2 linked regions of the Homo sapiens genome follow. The protein of the gene in region 2 purifies or fractionates together with the protein of the main gene of each other region. This does not show direct contact. Each region holds a gene or a part of one and is shown on either strand. Other genes may lie near its edges. The genes, in order: CPT2 and MCUR1.

What was found.
Region 1: the proteins of MCUR1 (region 2) and CPT2 purify together in Homo sapiens (affinity purification with mass spectrometry; 2 studies listed by BioGRID and IntAct, with this or other methods). This does not show direct contact.

Annotation. Positions count from the first base shown.
Region 1 is NC_000001.11:53,206,824-53,214,100, reverse strand, and holds part of CPT2 (carnitine O-palmitoyltransferase 2, mitochondrial isoform 1 precursor), read right to left. Parts: intron 4,087-7,277; coding exon 2,782-4,086; intron 838-2,781; coding exon 506-837; 3' UTR 1-505. UniProt on the Homo sapiens protein: Involved in the intramitochondrial synthesis of acylcarnitines from accumulated acyl-CoA metabolites.
Region 2 is NC_000006.12:13,811,300-13,818,492, forward strand, and holds the start of MCUR1 (mitochondrial calcium uniporter regulator 1), read right to left. Parts: upstream 3,259-7,193; 5' UTR 3,131-3,258; coding exon 2,716-3,130; coding exon of another isoform or gene 2,473-2,715; intron 1-2,472. UniProt on the Homo sapiens protein: Key regulator of mitochondrial calcium uniporter (MCU) required for calcium entry into mitochondrion. Plays a direct role in uniporter-mediated calcium uptake via a direct interaction with MCU.

The sequences.
Region 1 (7,277 bases), on a different chromosome or scaffold from region 2:
AATCTCTTGTTATCTTCAGTTGTGATCTAGTCCCAAGTGGAAATTACGTTTAGCTTTAAAACCATGAATTTAAAGCTCAAGCCTGTAGCTGGCTGCCTAGGCAGCTTATGATTAGTTTCACAGAATAGCACCCACTGGCTACACAGGCCCCAGTTTTTTTTTCTTTTTTGTTTTTTTGAGACAGTCTCGCTCTGTCGCCCAGGCCGGAGTGCAGTGGTGTGATCTCAGCTCACTGCAACCTCCACCTCCTGGGTTCAAGCAATTCTGCTTCAACCTCCCAAGTAGCTGGGATTATAGGCACATGCCACCACACCCAGCTAATTTTTGTATTTTTAGTAGAGACAAGGTTTCACCATGTTGGCCAGGTTGGTCTCAAACTCCTGACCTCAAGTGATCCACCCGCCTCAGCCTCTCAAAATGCTGGGATTACAGGCATGAGCCACCATGCCCGGCCTCCCAGTTTTCATGATGAGGAAGTGATGGTAGCTTTTCATCTGCCCAGAAGTTAACTTTTGATGGATTTGCCTTCTAAGGCATCAAACATGTCTTCTAAGGCCTTCTCCACACATTGGAGAAACTCCCGGGCATTGCGGCCTGGGTAGGAAGAGACATTGCAGCCTATCCAGTTGTCATGAACAGCATACCCAACACCAAAGCCATCAGAGACCACAGGGGCAAAGCCCCCAAGGTTCACTGCTGGGCTGCTCAGTGTGCTCGTGGACAGGACATTGTGGTTTATCTGCCCGTATGCAGGGTCCAGGTAGAGCTCAGGCAAGATGATCCCTTTGGCTGCTGCCAGATGCCGCAGAGCAAACAAGTGTCGGTCAAAGCCCTGGCCTGTGAGAAACAAAATGGAAAACCAGAGTCTCAGGATGGAAAAGGACCTCAGGAAAACCTCCCAACTCACCACATGGTAGGAATACCCCTCACAGCATCCTTGAGAGTGGGGGAAGGCTCTACCTCTATGCACACCACCAACTGACTAACCTTCAGAGCAGCTCAAGCTAGATTATTTTAAATTATTTAGGAAATATATTATGTCATGTTACATTTAAAAATAGCTGTCAACAGCTGAGCTAAAAATGAGCCTAAAAGGAAAGCATAATTTTAAAGATGTGAAATCAGTTTAGTCAAAGAGTCAAGACAGTACAGGAAGACAGCTATGGACTCAAAAACTACAATAAAACTAAAAGTCTGATTCAAGTGTAAAAGAGAAGATTGAGTCAGTGGAACAAAATGGAAAGTCTGTTTGACCAGGGTTCGAATCTCAGTCTTACTACTAACTTGCTGTGTAACGGGGCCAGTGGCTTGGTTTTCTCCCTATAAAATGGAGGAAGAGAAGATTAGAATGTCTTGGAGGTCCCTTTCACTTCCAGCACTTCATAGCAACATGAAAGGACAACTATGACCCTCCAGGTCCTTTCCAGGTCTTGAATTTTATCAAAAAAAGGTAATGACGGATGACAATTGAGAAGAGCTTCTGAGATAACCTGTTTACAGAGAGCAGACACATTACAACTGAGGTGAAGCTAGTGGGGCCGTAAGTTTAGAAATCCTAAATTTTCAAAAGTGAGTCTGATAACCAATCAGTAATAGAAAAAGGTTGGGTGCAGTGGTGCATGCCTATAATCCTAGTGCTTTGGGAGGCCAAGGCAGGAGGATTGCTTGAGCCCAGGAGTTTGAGACCACCTTGGGCAATACAGTGGGACCTCATCTCTACAAAAAATTTTAAAAATTAGGCCCGGCATGGTGGCTTACGCCTATAATCCCAGCACTTTGGGAGGGTGAGGCGGGTAGATCATGAGGTCAGGAGTTTGAGACCAACCTGGCCAACATAGTGAAACCCCGTCTCTATTGAAAATATAAAAATTAGCTGGGCATGGTGGCATAAGCCTGTAGTCCCAACTACTCAGGAGGCTGAGGCAGGAGAATCGCTTGAACCCAGGAGGCAGAGGTTGCAGTGAGCTGAGATTGTGCCACTGCACTCCAGCCTGGGCAACAGAGCAAGAGTCCATCTCAAAAAAAAAAAAAAATTAAAATATCAGCTGGGCATGGTGGTGCATGCCTATAGTCCCAGCTATTTGGGAGGCTGAGGCAGGAGGATTGTTTGAGCCAAGGAAGTTGAGGTTGCAGTGAGCCATGATTGCACCACTGTACTCCAGCCTGGGTGACAGAATGAGACCGTGTCTCCAAAAAAAAAAAGGCCAGGTGCGGTGGCTCACGCCTGTATTCCTAGAACTTTGGGAGGCTGAGAGGGATGGATCACCTGAGGTCAGGAGTTCAAGACCAGCCTGGCCAAAATGGCAAAACCCCTTCTTTACTAAAAATGCAAAAACTAGCCAGGTGTAGTGGCGGGTGCCTATTATCCCAGCTACTTGGGAGGCAGAGGCAGGAGAATCACTTGAACCTGGGGGTGGAGGTTGCAGTGAGCCGAGATCACGCCATTGCACTCCAGCCTGGACGGAGGGAAACTCTTGTCTCCAAAAAAAAAAAAAAAAAAGAAAGAAAAAAGAATTAATGCGTCACAGCTGAAAGTGACCTTAAATGAGGACAAAGACACATGCATTTCCCCACCCCTGCTTAGGAGGCAAGAACATTCTGATCCCTAGTGGCTAGTGTGGCTGTTCAGACTGCTAGGGTAGAAAAGAAAAATTTGGGGAGTTGGCGATGGATTAAACCTAGTGAACGGGTAGAAATCAGATTTGGAGTAGAATGATTTAGGCTTGCTTACCCAAGCACTGAGGACAAGACCCAAGGGCATGCTCCCCACCCCTGCCTCACCCATTGCTGCTTCTTTGGTCAGCTGGCCATGGTACTTGGAGCACTCAACCATCATCTGCTGAAGCTCACCAGCACTGTGCCTGGAGGGCTCCCTGACAAAGGCCTCAGAGCACCTCTTTGTATAGACGGAGGCCGGGCGGATGGTCTCAGTGCGGCCGTGCTTGAATGCGGCAGTGCTACAGGACTCGTAGGTGGCCACTGTCTGCCCGTACTGCCGCAGGAAGGCCATCTGGAATGCCAGCTGGGCAACTGCGTCAGGGCTCAGCTTTTGCTTCTTCAGGAATTCTTTGCCTCCTCTCTGAAACTGGACGCAGTCAATAGTGAGGGTTTTCATGGTGGCATCAAACTTTTCCTTAGCAGCTGTGATGCCAGTCTTTAAGGCATCAGTCAGCTCGAAGTTGAGTTTCTGCACCGTGACAGTAGAGTCAGTGGTAGCTGGCTGGCTCTGTGGAGTGACGGCAGGGGTCTGAGTGCTGTCTTTAAATACTTCATTAAAAAATCTGAGCACTGCCACACCATCACCCCAAGAGTGCTCAAAGTGGACGGCAGTAGAGCCATCCTTGGCGATAATGAGGTTAAAGGATTTATCAAACCAGCGGTTTGTGCCATCCCCATGCAGCATATTGTGGGACAAGTGGACAAGGTCCTTAATGGGGAAGTCATCTAGGCAGAGACAGAACACTGCCGAGTCCACTTTCCTCAGGCTCTCCTCATTGCCACTACTCATCAGCTTCTGCCTGAGCTCTGCCCAGATGTCTCGGTTCTCACTGGTCAGGTATGCCAGGGGAAACTCGGGGGCGGGGCTGCTGTCTGAGAGAATGTACTTCAGATGTGCCTGGATTTCCGAGGGGCTCACAATGTTCCCATCTTGATCCAGGACATCAAAGATATAAAAATTTCCTTTCCTTAGGACCAGGAGGTGTCTGGCCTTGTCATCAGTGAAGAGTTCATCCCGACTGGGTTTGGGTAAACGAGTTGAGTTGAAAAGCCGAAAATACTGGGACATATCCAGGGGATACGCATTGACCAGGTAGGCCCCATACCAGGACAGAGAGGAAGGCACAAAGCGTATGAGTCTCTTGAAGGTGATAGTGTCACTTTTTGCAGGGTTCAAGTGGAACACTTCTGGCTCCAGAAGGCCAGCCCGGAGTGTCTTCAGAAACCGGATGGCAGAAACAGTCATGTTGGTTGCCCGGGTGAGCTGGTCATTATACTCAGATTTTGGGTCAGGATTGAAAGCCATAAATGGATTAAAGTTCAGAACAACGGAGTCTCGAGCAGATAGGTACATATCAAACCAGGGTCCTAAAAAATAAAAAGAAAAAAATAACATAAAATGTTAATGCTGTCCCTAAAAATAAAATTTGAAGAAGAAAAAAAATTCAAGCATAGACAAAGGAAATGGCATCAACCTCCAGAGAGAAGAATTCCCTGAATGTTTTTGCTCTGCAATAATTCAAGACATACAAATGGGGTCATACAATATATGGTGTTTTGCATTTAGCTTCTATCACTTACAATAATGTTTTTGTTTTGTTTTTTTGGGACGGAGGCTCGCTCCTGTCGCCCAGGCTGGAGAACAGTGCTGCAATCTCGGCTCACTGCAACCTCCGCCTCCCGGATTGAAGCGATTCTCCTGCCTCAGCCTCCTGAGTAGCTGGGATTACAGGCGTCCTCCACCATGCCCAGATAATTTTTGGATTTTTAGTAGAGACAGGGTTTCACCATGTTGGGCAGGCTGGTCTCAAACTCCTGACCTCAGGTGATCCACCCGCCTCGGCCTCCTAATAATGTTTTTAAGGTTCATCCATGTTGTAGCATTTAAGTTCTTCATTTCTTCTTAGCGCTGAACAATGTTCCATTATATGGATATACTATATTTTGTTTATCCACTCATCAGGTAATGGACATTTGAACTGTTTCCACTCTTTATTATGAATTACATTGCCTTTTTTTTTTTTAAGAGACACAGGATTTCTATCATCCAGGCTGGATTGCAGTGGTATGATCATGGCTCACTGCAGCCTTGAACCCTGGGCTCAAGCGATCCTCCCACCTCAGCCTCCCAAGTAGCTAGGACTACAGATGCACACCACCAGCCTGGCTAATTTTTTTATTTTTGGTAGAGATGGGGTCTTATTATGTTGCTCAGGCTGGTTTCAAGCTCCTGGCCTCAAGTAATCCTCTCACCTCAGCCTCTTAAAGTGCTGGGATTACAGGTGTGAGCCACTGCACCTAGCTATTAAGAATTATGTTGTTATGAACATTCTTATACATGTTTTTGTATGGACATAGCTAGGAGTGGAACTACTATCACATGGTAAGTCTCTGTTTAACCTTTGAGGAACTGCCAGGATGTTTTCCAAAGTGGCTGCACCATTCCCACGAGCTGTCTGTGAGGGTTCCAATTTTTCCACATCCTCAGCAGCACTTGTTACATGTCTTGTGGCGTGGAGATATTCTGGTAGGTGTAAAGTAGTATAGCATTGCAGATTTGGTTTGCATTTTCCTAATGTTTATTAATTGCTTTTTCTTCCTCTTCTGTTTCCTTTCTTGGTTTAAAGGAATAAAATATGGTAACACTCCACTTGCATTCATGCTGGAACAGAATAGTTAATTCCCACCCCATCTCTTTAGGTTTCTCTTGCTTCATCTCCTTTCAGGGGCAACAATCATACTTGATTGCTCCCCGATAAGGGGGGAACGTCTTCATTGTCCTTCTATGTACAGTGTACATTTGTACACTCCCTGTTTAGAAAGTACTAAAAAAGCTATTATAAATATCAGTGCATGGATCACTCAGACTAGCCCTCTGAGTTCCTATAGATGTTTTACCTGTAAAAATTCCAGAAGCAATATTTTATCAGAAAATATGTCAGGGAAAGTTCCTGCTGGGATTAGTAAACATGAATAAACTCTATAAATAAGGACTATCATTCAGGCAAATAATGTTCATATGTATAGCACTGGGAAAAGGATTAATAGATGCAGATTTCTCTGTTACTCATTTGTTGGTCCATCCACTCATTCCATCCCTTGAGAATCAGTGCTGTGCCAGGCCTTGGTCCAGGGGATTTAGAGAGGAATAGGACATGGTCTTTGATTCTGAAAAACTCTGGTGAAGGAGGCAAATAATTAAAACATAACGCAATGCACTAAAATGGTGAGAGAAAAGTACTGGTGGATAAGATATATTTGATGAAAGAAGACATAAATTCATGCCTCTGACCCCCCTTTAGCAAAAGAATTTCAAAGAGACATAAACCAGTCAGGCCAAGAGAATGGGAGACGAGAAAACAAATACTGGAAGCTGGAAAGCACTTATGCAACTGGTAATGACTAAAGCAGACTCAAGAAAGCCAATCCTAAATTGGCAGGAGAGAAAGCCAAGAAATCATATGATTTGCACAGCAGAACCCCCAGAGGGCTCAGTAATTGGCAACCTAGATACATCTGGTTGAAGGACTATTCAATTATATCACCACTACCACAACCTGAGATTCCCTCCTCACTCCTGTAGAAGACTTAAGTTTTACTCTCTGGAGATAATAAAACTGGGGGCTGGGTGCAGTGGCTTATGCTGGTAATCCCAGCAATTTGGGAGGGCGAGGTGGGTGTATCATGAGGTCAGGAGATCAAGACCATCCTGGCTAACATGGTGAAACACCGTCTCCGCTAAAAATACAAAAAATTAGCCAGGTGTCGTGGCACGTGCCTGTAGTCCCAGCTACTCAGAAGGCTGAGGCAGGAGAATCACTTGAACCCAGGAGGCTGAGGTTGCAGTGAGCTGAGATCGCACCACTGCACTCCAGCCTGGGTGACAAAATGAGACTCTGTCTCAAAAAATAAATAAATAAAATAAAACTGGGAGACCTGAATCACAGTTGAGATCTCAAACCTTCTTCCCTTACTTACCCTGCCTTCTACAACACTAGCAACCTTTTGGCAGTTTACTGGAAAAGCCTCCCTAGGGAAGCTAACCCAACTACACTACCATTAGGGGCAACCCAGGGAAGCAGTTTAGCTGGATCACTGTATTAGTCTGTTTTCACACTGCTATAAAGAACTACCTGAGACTGGATAATTTATAAAGAAGAGAAGCTTAACTGACTTAGTTCCGCATGGCTGGGAAGGCCTTAGGAAACTTACAATCATGGTGGAAGGCAAAGGGGAAGCAAGGCACATCTTACACAGCAGCAGGAGAGAGAACAAGCAAGGAGTAGGAACTGCCAAACACTTTTAAACCATCAGATCTCATGAGAACTCACTATCACAAGAAAAGCATGGGGGAAACTACCCCATGATCCAATCACCTCCCACTAGGTCCCTCCCTTGACACTTGGGGATTATTACAATTCAAGATCAGATTTGGTTGGAGACACAGAGCCAAACCACATCATTCTGCCCTGGCCTCTCCCAAATTTCATGTACTTCTAACATTTCAAAACACAACCATGTCTTCCCAACAGTGCCCCAGAGTCTTAACTCATTCCAGC
Region 2 (7,193 bases):
AGCATCTGGCAAGGGGCCTGGCATACAGCAGGCTAGGAATAATTTTTTTTTTTTGGTAATTGAACTGTAATGACTTCTACAATCTGGATTATGAAACTGTCTAGAGGGAAAATTTGAGATGAATTCCTTTCTCCTCAGTTCTTCCCTTTTCACATAAACGAGCTCACTTAAATCTGGTACCTCTTTTTTAGTTTATTTCCAGTCCTGAGACTAAAACTGGCCTCCATGAGAAGAGACCCAGGATGTCTGCCCAACACAGAAGAGACCTAGCCTGAGAAACAGTGGGAGTGAAGGAATGAAAGCACTTCTCCAGGGGACCTCCTAAGGACCACCTCACCTGCCCCAGAACTCTACTGGACTGCCCCATGTGTCAGGGAGCTCGAAAACACCTGAGTCTGGAATGACTTGTGAAGAGTGACAGGGTTACTCTAGACCTAAATTCCTTGTTTCTAGTAAGAAAATAATCATTCATGTATTTAAAACATAACCTCCTCACCCCCACCCCCACATAAACAAAACAATCACATGACTACTTTGTAACGCCAATTTGGATACTACAGTTTTTTTGTTATTGTTGTTCTTTTTCAAAAAGATTGGAACCAGAAACAGCAAGCTTATTTCCAAGAAATCCTGCCTCTGAAAGGTCGACAGAAGGGCTGGCCACTTTCCATTGGTCACTCCAACCCCTGATGAGGGAAGGAAATGCCCTCTTGGCCTTCTGTCAAAGGGCAGTACCTGAGGACACCGCCAACTCCCAGACTCCTCACTGATCATAAGGAAGCGAGCCAACTGAGCTGTGTCAACGTGTAACATGCAATTCCCCTTTCTGGGGACCTTCAGCATATCAAGAGAATATTAAAAACCCACAATTACAATAGAGGCCCAAAGGTAGCCTTGGACAGGATGAGGAAACCAAATACAAACTTCCTACTCATGACATCCTTAAGTAGCTCAACCGAGAACCTCAGGCACCAAGCAAACAAATGGTTGGGAAACGCTCATTGGCTGGTTAATGGGCATACATGCTTCCTTAACTGTGTCTCTGCTCTCTTCTGTTTTTATGCATCCATACTCATTTTTTATGATGACTGAAGAATGAGATAGCTGACACTAAAACAACAGTACCACCTTACCGATTGGTCAGCAAATCCGTGAGAAAGAACACTCTCTTTTTGCCCTATACTCTTGCATTGAGAGAAAAACAAATTGGAAATTACTAGCTTGTCAGAAAAAGCGCAACAAAAGGCAAAATACAGAATAAAGACCAAACTCATCTCCGACTCCTAATTACTGAAGGACAGTGACACCGAGTTCACTACTCATTCCCCACTCTCTGTATATAAAGTTTCCTTCACTTTATTGCTCTACTAATCAGTTTTTACCCCAGCCAATGATATTCTTAAATTATAGATATGGTCAACATTTAGTGGGCCTATCTGTTGAAGAAAATATGAAAAATGTGTAGTTAGTGATGGCTACTAATGAATATGTATAGACTGCCCAAAGTGATAATTTTGCCAAGTCTGTTGATTATCAGAAATGATTTTTTTCTTTAATCAACAATATGCTATCTAATAAATTGATTCTATTTACTTTCCTCATCTCCAGGGCAGTGATCTCTCTCACCTCCTTTAAATAGTCATGAGCCCCACAACTACCTTTCAGCCCAGGACAGAGGGGCACACACGACAGTGGTCTATGAGACTATAATACATATTTTTACTCTACCTTTTCTACATTTAGATGCGCAAATACCATTGTGTTCAGATTGCCTCTAGTATTCAGTACGGTAACATGCTGTTCAGGTTTGTAGCCTAGGAGCACTAGCCTCTACCTGATAGTCTAGGTGTGTAGTAGGCTGTAGCATCCAGGTTTGTGTAAGCACACTCTACAATATTCACACAAGGAAGAAGTCGCCTAATGACTCATTTCTCAGTAGGCGACTGTCCTGAAGAGATGCATGACTCTAATTAAATGCTACCTTCTCAATGAAATCGATTCTGATCACCCTATTTAAATTCACAACTGGAGACCCATTCCACTTCCCAAGCCTTATCCTATTTTTCTATACCAGGCATCGAATTACGAATATATAAAAATTATTTGTATATATAAATTATATATACATCAATTATGCATACGTATATCCACACACACATATTTACTGCGTCTGCTCTGCTAGAATTAAGCTCCAGAGGGAAGATTTTGTGGACTGATATATCTCACACATCTAGAAAAGCGCCAGGGACAGGGCAGACGCTAGGACTCCACGAATTAATGATTCCATCAGAATTTGAAATCAAACTGTAAAGCAATCCCTTCATTTCCCAGAGCTTTGCTGCTCAAACATACACACCCCTTCCCCTTGAACGCCCAACAGGCTGGGCGCTGCCAAACAGAACTCCTGGAAGGCGGCGCCCAAAAGCAGACCCTAGGAGTGGGCGGGCACCAACTCCCCGCCCCAGCACGCACCTCCCTCCAACTTTAGCGCCCGGGATTCCCAGGAATTCGTCTCTTCTGGGCTAAGCCCCGCCACCGCGGCCGAGCAGGGCGGGCCCGGACCTTCGACCCACGCTCCGGGCAGATGCCGGTGGCCTTGGAGGACCCGCCCTCCGGCCTGCCGGGCCTTTCCTCGGGGAGGCTGTAGCTGAGATCCCCGCCCCGCCGTCCAACCCCGCGAGACGAGCCCCCTCTCCTCTCCCGCCCGGGCCTCACCTCTCCTGCAGGAAACGAGTGCAGGCGCCGGGCCGTGGTACTGGGGAAGGGCGCCGGCGGCAGCGGCGACGCCCGGTGAGCACCTCCACGCGCTGCTGCGCCCGGCCGGGGGTGCGGCATACCCGAGGCGCGAGCGCTCCCAGTCCCCGAGCTGCCGGCGCGGGGCTGCGGCGGCCAAGCGCGGGGAGGGCACTAGCAGGAGGAGGAGCAGCGGTGAGGCACGTGACACGCCGCCGCGGGCCGCCGGGGCGCGAGGGCGCAGCGCCCCCAGACCGTCGGAGAGCGCAGAGAGGCAGCGGCGTGCTGAGGTTTCGCTGCCGCCCGGTCTTCCGCTGAGGCCCACGGGCAAGAAGAGAAGCCGCTGGCGGCCGGGCAGGCGCTGGGTCCTCTGGCCGCCGACCGAGCCGCAGTCCATCCCCGAGCAGTTCACTGGCCCGGGCGCGCGCTCATGCCTCTCGCTTTTGGCGCCGGCCACGCGCGGTCCAGGCCCAGAGTCCGACAGCGGGAGCGAGCGTGGGCCACAGCGCAGGACCGCCCTTTCCTGCCGGGCGCGCGGGCGGGGCTCGGGACGCGCGCCGGGGGTGGGGTGGGGCGGGGCGGCAGGAGCCCGCCGTGGCGCTCCGAGATGCGGGGACCGTGCGAGCCCCCACCCCATTCGCTAGGCGACGGCGGCGACCGGGAGGAGCCTGCGGGCACTCCGGAACTGGAAGGAGCTTGTTGCTGTCACGATTTGCATTTTCACTGCACTGCTGTCCTTAAAAAGGAATTACCCCGGTGCCCTTCAGAGTCCTGTGAAAAGTCTCAGACCGACAGGCTGCCCTAGATTTCACTGATTATCCTAAGTCCCCAAACATGTGGTTCTGGGGAGCATTTTAAGGAATTATTAGCAGGGCCCAGGGAAAGGCCCTCACATAATACATTCAAAACTAAATTTTCAGAGTTTTTGTTTCCAGATTAGAGCACCAAAAACATGGGAAGGTAGCAATCTGGGAACTTAAAACGTGGGGCATGAATGTTAAAATGAGACCTGTCGGGTATATTTGAAACTGGTAATGTTTAGTTTCGTGGACTTTTTGAAGGCCTGTTACACCATTCACAGATAACTGGTCCCTTATGTGAATTTGGAAGATGTTAGTTGAATAAATAAATGAAATGCATAAGGCACCAAGCTAGGAGATTTTATTAAAAATAAAAAACCGCAAAACAAATTGTTCTTATCCTCCAGAAGCTGTTTTCCTATACAGCCATATGTGTACACATACGTGATGGAAGAATGTGTTATGAGCCATGAGAGATGTACAAAGTGCTGGGAAGAGAGGAGCGTGCATATGGATGTGCAAGATAAGTGTCTATCAAAATTTGAAGAACTGAAAAACAGGATTCAAGTCATAGGTTGGTGCAAAAGTAGTTGCGGCTTTTGCCATTGCAAGTAATGGCAAAAACCGCAATTACTTTTGCACCAACCTAAGACACTTTTGTAAAAGGAGTATACATTTATAAAATTGGTAGAAAAAGCAGTTTAGCAATGAGTATCAACAAAAATTTGTAAACTTTTCTCAAGTCACCTAACTAAAAATGGGGATAATGGGAATAATCCAAAATATTAAATATCTACTAGGTTTGACTATACAAACTTGTCATTTTTATGGGTCAAAATGCTTAATATTGGTAATTTCACATATGCACAAAAGATAGTCATTGTATCATAATTTGTGATTGTGAAAAAATGGGAAAATAGTGCACAACATTAGAGGAACGATTAAACTGTGGCACAAACTTTAATGTTAGTCCTTTGTAATTTTTAAAAATTGAGGTATAATTTGCATACAGTAAATTCCACAGACTTAGGTGACATTTAGCAGTTGATAAATGTCATTTAGCAACTTGATGACATTTAGCAGTTGTATATACCACCCAGTCAAGATCTAGAACATTTTCATTGCTCCAGAAAGTTATTTTGTGCCAGTTTTCCAGACAATCCACCACCACCCCAAGGCAACTATTTTCTCTTTTTTTTTTTGAGACGGAGTCTTGCTCTGTCACCCAGGCTGGAGTGCAGTGGTGCAGTCTCAGCTCACTGTGTCCTCTGCCTCCCGGGTTCAAGCAATTCTCCTGCCTCAGCCTCCTGAGTAGCTGGGATTACAGGTGTCTGCCACCACGCCTGGCTAATTTTTGTATTTTTAGTAGAGACGGGGTTTCACCATATTGGCCAAGCTGGTCTCGAACTCCTCACCTTGTGATCTGCCCGCCTCGGCCTCCCAACGTGCTAGGATTACAGGCGTGAGCCACCGCGCCCGGCCAACTATTTTCAAATTTCAATGACCATAGATTAGTTTTGTCTTTTTTTGAACTTCATGTAAATGGAGACCTACAATATGCATTGCCTTGTGTCTTTCTTCTGCTTTGCGTCTGACTTCAATATCAATGAGATTCATCCATGCTGTTGTATCAGTAATTAGTTGCTTTTAATTGTTGAATAGTATTCCATTGTATGACCATACCACAAGCGGTCATCCATTCTATTAATGGCCATTTGCTTTGCTTATAGTTTTTGGCTATTATGCATAGGGCGTTATGAACATTCTTGTATAAGACCTTGTGTGGACATAATTTTTATCCCTGTTGGGGAAAGTATCTGGGTCAAATTGCTGAATCATATGGTAGCTTAACTTTAGACACTGCTGAATTGTTTTTCCAAAGCGACTGCACCCTTTCACACTCTTAGCAATAGATGAGCGTTTCGGTTGTTCCACATCCTTGCCAAATTTTGATATTTTCAGTCCTCATAAAATGGTACCTTATTGTGATTTTTAACATAACATTTCCCTGATGCCTAATGATGTTGACTAACTTTTCATGTATTACTATTACCAGCCATATTGAATACAATAACATATGTAAAGCACTTAGCACAGTGCCTGGCCTATGATAGGAGTATAATGAATGTCAGTTCTAACTACAGGTTGGATAGCATCCACTTTTCCTTGGATGTGACACCTGTTGTTTTATTTTCCAAAGCATTCCCTTTCTTTTGGTCTCAGCACCCTAGTTTTCCATGGGCAGTGGCTCTTCTCTGCTCTCAGTCCATGCGGTTTGGAGAGACTGATCGCTCTGCAGACCACAGGCATGGGCATGTCACCCAATCAGAGTTAATGAGCAGCCGGGCGCGGTGGCTCACGCCTGTAATCCCAGCACTTTGGGAGGCCAAGGAGGGCGGATCACTTGAGGTCGGGAGTTGGAGACCAGTCTAGAGAAACCCCGTCTCTACTAAAAATACAAAATTAGCTGGGTGTGGTGGCACATGCCTGTAATCCCCGCTACTTGGGAGGCTGAGACAGGAGGACTGCTTGAACCCAGGAGGTGGAGGTTGCGGTGAGCTGAGATTGCACCATTGCACTCCAGCCTGGGCAACAAGAGTGAAATTCCATCTAAAAAAAAAAAGCTTCAATTCTAGGATTCTTTTTTTGTTTGTTTATTTGAGATGGAGTCTCACTCTGTTGCCCAGGCTGGAGTGTGGTGGCTCAATCTTGGCTCATTGCAACCTCCACCTCCTGGGTTCAAGCGATTCTCCTGTCTCAGCCTCCCACGTAACTGGGATTACAAGCAAGCACCACCATGCCCAGCTAATTTTTGTATTTTTTAGTAGAGACGGGGTTTCACCATGTTGGCCAGGCTAGTCTCAAACTCCTGACCTCAAGTGACCTGCCTGCCTCAGCCTCCCAAATTGCTGGGATTACACGTGTGAGCCACCACGCCTGGCCCAATTCTAGGGTTCTTAATAGGAACTATTGGGAAGAGGTCGTCTTATTTTATTGTGATGTCTAGGTATAGGATGATTTGAACCATGAGCTCCTGGGGCTACCATGTGGCCTAAGACTAAAGCCCTTATGAAGAAAAGAAGACTGAGAAATGAAGAGACGGGTCCTTTTGAGCGTCTGATTCTAGCTTAGGCTGAAATTGGCATTTTATTTATGTAATCCAATAAGTTGCTTTTACTTAAACCAGCTGGGATAGGGCTTCTGATTCCTATCCCGGATACATTAGTGTACATTAGGATAATCTAGACATGTTAGACTTCTGTCTATGTATAGAGAGACTAGATACAGGAATCTAATGGCCAATGAAGAAGAAGAAGTATCAACTAATTAATGGATCAGGCAGGAGCCAGACAACCCCCATGTGAACCATGACAAAGTTGGACTTTATGACAAAGTTGGATTGGTGAATATACTTGGATCTGGGGCCAAAGTGGGGCCATCTTACTCTCTCTCTGTATCTAGACTTAGGGACCTCCCATGAGTAAAGCTGGATTCACAGAGCAGACTCTGACTTAGCCACCATCTGTGAGAAGTTTAGGTGGCCTTATATATTCTAGGTGTCATCAGGAGAAAAGAGATGGAAGATGGCCAGAGCTATCCCTGAAAGATCTACTGGGTCTGTTTTAGCAGGTAGTAACAGAAAGGTCAAGGGCTCATTGT